2 linked regions of the Homo sapiens genome follow. The protein of the gene in region 2 purifies or fractionates together with the protein of the main gene of each other region. This does not show direct contact. Each region holds a gene or a part of one and is shown on either strand. Other genes may lie near its edges.

The links. Proteins that work in one complex are often made in the same cells at the same time.
Region 1: the proteins of MCM3 (region 2) and FKBP5 purify together in Homo sapiens (affinity purification with mass spectrometry; 2 studies listed by BioGRID and IntAct, with this or other methods). This does not show direct contact.

What each region holds. Positions count from the first base shown.
Region 1 is NC_000006.12:35,678,907-35,682,560, reverse strand, and holds part of FKBP5 (peptidyl-prolyl cis-trans isomerase FKBP5), read left to right. Parts: intron 1-3,654. UniProt on the Homo sapiens protein: Immunophilin protein with PPIase and co-chaperone activities. Component of unligated steroid receptors heterocomplexes through interaction with heat-shock protein 90 (HSP90).
Region 2 is NC_000006.12:52,267,612-52,271,265, reverse strand, and holds part of MCM3 (DNA replication licensing factor MCM3), read left to right. Parts: intron 1-2,039; coding exon 2,040-2,180; intron 2,181-3,259; exon of another isoform or gene 3,260-3,297; coding exon 3,298-3,401; intron 3,402-3,654. UniProt on the Homo sapiens protein: Acts as a component of the MCM2-7 complex (MCM complex) which is the replicative helicase essential for 'once per cell cycle' DNA replication initiation and elongation in eukaryotic cells.

The DNA of each region.
Region 1 (3,654 bases), about 17 Mb from region 2:
TGAGGAGTCCCCAGAAAATGGTCATTTCATTATCAAAAGCAGGGTTGCAAATTTCAGATTGATCTTTTCAAAAGTTAGATTTGTACTTGTTCTCAGTGTTCCTATCTCTGGAAACTAAAGAACCTCCTCCATTGTTAGCTGAAAATTGCACAGTGAATTTGAAAGTCAAGATGTCCCAGTCATGGACATAATGCTGCGATAGGTTACTTTTTGGAATGGAGAAAACATCTTAGAGATTGAGTCTGCATCAGAATATATTCTGAATGAGCATGGAATGTTCTTTACCCATGTTAGATATTAATTAATTAAGTTTTTCCATGTTTAACTTTTTTAAAAAAGCAAGACAATAAAAACAGTCTTGTAATCTGAACACATATTTTGGGTTTTGTTGCTAGCATAAAAATTATTACCTAGTGGATGGTAACACTGTTTTGAAATTCTAGCTTGGAGGAGATGTTTGTTACAAGAGAAAAGGTGTTTCATTGAAACCTAACAGGGTAATTTACATGGAGAGATACTTGTTTCTCTTTTGAGTTATTGTTAGGTTAAGACATAAACTTAGAAAAATTGAGATGCTCATCTTTCCCATCTTAGATTTACTTTCACTATGAACTTTATAAATTCTTTTTTTTGAGACAGTCTCACTCTATCGCCCAGACTGGAGTGCAGTGGCGTGATCAGAATTATTCAAGCTTATGTATGTGTGTGTATTACACATATATTACACATATGTATAAATATCAAATATCTTTTTTACATTATATATAATGGTATATATGGTTGCTATATGTTTTATGTGTGTATAGCAGTATCTATCTATACTGCCTTATTTCCCAGGCATATTTATATGCGAAACTTTTTTTCTGTGAAATCTTATTGTACCAAGAGGAATAAGTATATATGCCCACAAAAAGACTGGGTCATAGCAGCTTTTTTCACAGTAGGAATAAACTACTGATTCACATAGCAACATAGATGAATCTCAGAAATACTGTTCATAGCAAGAGAAGCCAGGCACAGATGAGTATGTATAAGTGTTTATGATGCCATTTATGAAAAATACAAGAACAGGCAAAACTAAGGTATGGTGATAGAAATCAGGACAGTGGTTGCCTCTGGGTAGGGGTTGTGGTTGACTGGAAAGGAGCACAAGGAAACTTTCTGGCATGATGGAAATATTCTGTAGCTTGACTTGGGTGATGGTAATTCAGTTATATACTTTTTGGGTAACTTCGTTTTCATGTAATTTTTAACTTACAGAAAAGTTGCAAGACTAGTACAAAGAGCTTCCGTATACCTTTATCCAGTTTTGCCAATTGTTATATACATTTACTCAAACATATTGATTCAAACTTAAGATTTTATAGTATGTAAATTTTACTTTAATAAAGGAAAGAAAGCTAAAAAAAGTGTTGAAAATGAGGATGATCTTGTTATCTAAAAAACATGAAATACCTCAGTTAGGAATTAACCAGTGGTTTAATAATGATGAGAAAAAGAATCGTTGGCTGTCTTTTGTCTTCATGTATATGTATTTATACTGCTTTTCACTAAAGACTCATGACATGTTTCTGTTAGAAGAAACAGGATCCTCAAAACGATTCAAGGTAGAACTGCCTACAAGGCAAACCTGCTTTATTTTGTTATCCTACACATGTCACCTAGGGAATGTGACTGAAACCTAGCAATAGCTTTCTGGGAATTGGAAGTTGTGACTGTTTCTGTTAAAAGAGTTGTATACCTACAATGTGCTAGCTGTTGCAAAGACATGAACAGTTTTTACTATCCTAGAACTTAGCCAAAGAAGAGGAGGCATACAAATCTGGTTGTTGTTTTTGGGTGGTGCTATTTTTCATAGGCAGGAAAGACATTGGTGTTTGTAAACTAAACTATTCTTGATCATTGGTAAGTGGTAAATCTGTCACTGTCTACTAGATTTAATGTTTCCACAGCCTCAATAGTGTGATTTGATTTAGATTAAATCAATTTAAATCATAGCTTAAACAATAATGGCTAAAAAAATTCAACTTTCCAATTCTACTACTTATTTTATGTAATTTTTAGTATGTGTTCATTACAATTTAGTATTAGGCATAATTAATGGATATTGGTTCTTTTTGTTTTTTCTTTTGAAACAGGGTCTAATTCTGTTGCCCAGTCTGGAGTGCAGTAGTGCGATCATAGCTCACTGCAGCCTGGAACTCCTGGGCTCAAATGATTCTCCTGCCTCAGTTTCCTGAGTGGCTGGGACTATAGGCGTGCACCACCATGTCTGGCTAATTAAAGAAAAATTGTAGAGACAGAGTCTTGCTGTGTTGCTCAGGCTGGTCTTGAACTCCTGGCCTCAAGTGATCCTCCCACCTTGGCCTCCCAAAGTGTTAGGACTGCAGGTATAAGCCACTGTGCCTGGCCTGGTTCATTTTTTTAAATCTTTTTTTTTTTTCCATCTACATCAGAAAGTTGTTTTATTTGGTCATATAGTCGAGTAGAAGATGTTTGAAGTAACTGGAGGGCTAACCAGATGCTTCAACAAATTAATCATTGATATTCAACATAAACATTTATTTTGCCTTTACTCATGAAAATAATAAAGTTATATGACCTATATATTTTTATTTATAAGTTTTTAAATTTAATATATTTTTATTTCAATAGCTTTGGAGTACAAGTGGTTTTTGGTTACATGGATGAATTATATCATGGTGAATTCTGAGATTTTAGTGCATCTGTTACCTGAGTAATACACATTTTACCCAATATGTAGTTTTTTATTCCTTTCCCCTGCCCTCTTCTGAGTCTCTAGAATCCATTATATCACTCTGTATGCCTTTGTGTACTCATAGTTTATCTCCCACTTATAGGTGAGAACATGCAGTATTTGGTTTTCCATTCCTGAGTTAGTTCACTTAGAATAATGTATCCAGCTTTATCAAAGTTGTTGTAAAAGACATTATTTCATTCCTTTTTTATGGCTGAGTAGTATTCCGTTGTGTGTGTATGCCATGTTTTCTTTACTCATTTAACTTATATATTTTTCAACAAAAACATAATTCTTTGAAGAATGACAGATGTCTGATATCAATCAACATGGATAAAAGGACTAACTTCTTCCATGTAATAAACATGTTCATATTTCTCTGAAATGACAGAATAGGCCTTTTCCCCTTTTATGGTCCATTTCACTATGGTGTTTAATTGATCAGTCGAGAATGAAGAAAACATTCTTTGAAAAGTATCTGCCAGAATTTTGTTTAGAATGGTCAGCCTTAACTGAAGATAGGATTTAAAAAGTATACCTGTAAGTAGACCTTTTTAGACTTTTTATTATGAAAGTTGCATACATACACAGAATCGTAGAGAATTGTCTAATGAAGTTCCATATACCTCCTCTCCAGATTCTTTAATGAACCTCCATGTACCCATTCCCCAGATTCATTAATTACTGACATTTTGGTTATTTGTATTTCATATATTTTTTTGAGACAGGGTCCTACTTGTTGCTCAGGTTGAAATGCAGTGGTGAAATCACAGCATGCTGCAGCCTTGACCTCCTAAGTACAAACAGTCCTCCCACCTCAGCCTCCACAGTAGCTGGGATTACAGGTATGCATCACCATGACCAGCTAATTTTTAAGTTTTTTTGTAGAGCCACAG
Region 2 (3,654 bases):
TAGATTCTTGGATTAGACATGATCCCAGATCATCTACTCAAGCCTCACCCACTCTGTCTTTTCAAATCCCTGCTGGGACTTTTTTTTTGAGATGCGGTCTTGCTGTGTTACCCAGGCTGGAGTGCAGTGGCATGGTCTGGGCTCACTGCAACCTCCGCCTCCCGGGTAGGTGGGACTACAGGTGCGTGCCACCATGCCCGGCTAATTTTGTATTTTTAGTAGAGACGGGGTTTCACTGTGTTGACCAGGCTGGTCTCAATCTCCTGACCTCGTGATCCGCCCATCTCGGCCTTCCAAAGTGCTGGGATTATAGGCATGAGCCCGGCCGGGACTTCTTAATACCCCCAGTGACAGCATGCGCAGAGCATCACTGTTTTGAAATTTTAGAATATTTATTAAGCTTAAACCTATTTTCCCACAACTTTTACCTGTGGGTGTTAGTCTTGTTTTCTGGAGGTTGTGTATCGCCTGTCTTCCTCATTAAACAGCTTACTTTCTTTTTAACTGTTCCTTTCCACATGCGAACTTCTGGTGTGTCCCAGGCCCTCTCATTGAACCTAGAACTGAGCGTCATACACTATTTTAATTGTCTTAGTGTGGGGTCTGTAAGTGAATTCCAAGAGAATTTGGATTCTCTAGGTCTGCTAGTGCAGGCCAGGATTTCACCAGCTTTTTAGGTGGTTTAAGAATTAGAACTTGTCATGGAGTGTATGACTTCCAAACTCCGGTAGCTTTCTAAATTATTACAAGATTTGATGAATGAATTTAAATGTGAATGTATTTATTTTTGAATGTCATTGTGGATATACATGGTAATTTAGGAAACTTGAAACAAGAAGTGACCAGGATACGTCAGTGATGGGGTCATATAATGGGAGACCCGGGAGGTGTGACAGAAGGAAGTAGTTTCTTTTTTTTTCTTTTTTTTTTTTTTTTTGAGATGGAATCTCGCTCTGTTGCCCAGGCTGGAGTGCAGTGGCATGATCTTGGCTCACTGCAACCTCTGCCTCCCGGGTTCAAGCTATTCTCCTGCCTCAGCCTCCTGAGTAGCTGGGATTACAGGCATGCGCCACCACACCGGGCTAATTTTTCTTTTGTATTTTTAATAGAGATGGGGTTTCACCATGTTGGTCAGGGTGGTCTCAAGCTCCTGACCTTGTGATCCGCCTGCCTTGGCCTCCCAAAGTGCTAGGATTACAGATGTGAGCCACCACGTCCGGGCTGGAAGTAGTTTCATGTCTGATCCCAGCTCTGCAGCTAGCTTTTGGACTGTGGACAAATCCTTTCACCTGTCAGGTCAGCTTTCTTATCCATAAAATGAGAGGATTGGATACATCAGAATCACCTGAAACTTGTACACATATCTAGTCCTAAACACTGAGATTTCTGATTCATTCATTTCCAATTCATTCTGATTGATTAGGTCAAGAAAGGCCATTCAGACAATAGCATTTTAAAAGATAAAGGCATCCCAGTTTGGTATTCATCGGCCCCTGTGAGAAACATTTGTTAGGAATGTGTCAGAGTTCTCCTTCTCCGGACTGAGTTTACTGAAGTTACGTTTTTGTCCTCAGATTACTTCTTTCCTATCCCTCCTTTAGTGTGACTTTGGAAAATCTCCTTGAAGGTCTTTGAGTCCCATTTCCTTCATGTATAAAACTTCTCCAAGTTATTAAGAGGGTGAAATGACAGAATGTATATAAAGGCAAACTTCCTGCTGCATTGCAGGCCTGCAATCACTGATGATTTTTCTCCCTTCTCTTTTCTACGCTGTAGCTTTTTATCTTTCCAGTTGTTAGATGCCTAATCTTCCCTGTTCACTTGCTCCTCCTTCCTGCAACACTCTTGTGTATATTTCCTTGATCATTGCTATCATCTTTCTCATTTTTATATGGTATCTGTAGAGAACACAGAACTCTGAATTCTTTGCTTGGGCCTCCTGGGGCTTTTCTGGTAGTGTCATTTCCCTTTCTGTGCAGTAGGATTGATGGGCATGCCTAAAAGACTTGGGATAAGCAATCCTCCCTTTTCTTCCCTAGACATCTCCAGTTACAGCCCGAACACTGGAAACTCTGATTCGACTGGCCACAGCCCATGCGAAGGCCCGCATGAGCAAGACTGTGGACCTGCAGGATGCAGAGGAAGCTGTGGAGTTGGTCCAGTATGCTTACTTTAAGAAGGTGAGGATTCAGATGCCTGGGCATGAGAGGATCTCCTGGATATATTACAGATGCATGGGCTTCCCAGCCTTCCGTGGCTGACGGCTACATTTGGATTGTCAACAGAAAGCAGTATTTGTCTTCCAGTCATCAGTCTGCCTCACTCTTTCCTCTGAAACACTCAGTGATTCTCAACCCTGACTGCACCAGAGAATCAGATGGAAAGCTTTAAAATGCTGATTCCAGGGCTCCTAGAGATTCTGGTTTAGTTGATGTGCTGTACTTTCAGTTAGCTGCTTCTCTGTCTACCCCTACTTCCTTTGCATCTTAAAAAAAAAAGTAGGTGTTTTCAAAAGAGCTACCTTGGTAATCTTCCTTGTCCCACTCTACCTTTCCTCTTGGTAGTCTCTTCAAATGTCCCATTGGCACCTCAGAAGCTCATGTTTAAAGTTGAACTCTCAAACTTGCCACTCATCCTGTTTCCCTATTTCTGTTTGTGACATTGCACCTCTGTCATTTTAGATATCAAGCCTCAAAGCCTAGACTCCCTTTTCCTAGTTGCCCACTCCCACCCCAGTCTGGTGAATGTTAGCCTTTTGGGGTTGAGTTGTGAGTCTAATAAACTCTTCCTTGCTTTTTGCTAGGTTAAGGGTTGAGTTGTGAGTCTGATAAACTCGTCCTCACTTTTTGCTAGGTTAAGGGTTGAGTTGTAAGTCTGATAAACTCTTCCTCGCTTTTTGCTAGGTTAAGGGTTGAGTTGTGAGTCTGATAAACTCTTCCTCGCTTTTTGCTAGGTTAAGGGTTGTCTTGGATTTCAATTAGACACCTGATTTATAAGGAAATGGATTGTTTTCACTTAACCATTATGGGCTAGACATTTGTTTCTTTATTCAGTAAACATTTATTGAGTACCTACTATATAAACAGCATTTAACATACTTCCCAGCATTTTGAAAAGATGGGTAGCAGTCTCTACTTCTGCCCCTGGTCCTGGGACTTAGGGACAAGAGGAGCTAGGTAAACCATTGGAAACATGGAAGTCTTTCCTGCTTATGATGCAGAAGGGACTGGGAGTTCTTGATGCAGTTCCCCTGCATCAGTGACCCCTCTAGCCCAGCCACACTTGCCTTGGTCTTAGGTTCTGGAGAAGGAGAAGAAACGTAAGAAGCGAAGTGAGGATGAATCAGAGACAGAAGATGAAGAGGAGAAAAGCCAAGAGGACCAGGAGCAGAAGAGGAAGAGGTAAGGTGGGGCAAGCAAATGAGATTAAAAAGTTAGTGGCCAAGAAGTTGGGGGTGCACGCCTGTAATCTTAGCAATTTGGGAGGCCGAGGCGGGTGGGTCACTTGAGTCCAGGAGTTTGAGACCAGCCTGGGAAATATGGCAAAACTGTCTCTACAAAAAATAGAAAAATTAGCTGGGCGTGGTGGCGGACACTTGTGGTCCCAGCTGCTCGGTAGGCTGGGGTCGGAGGATTGCTTGAGCCTGGGAGGCAG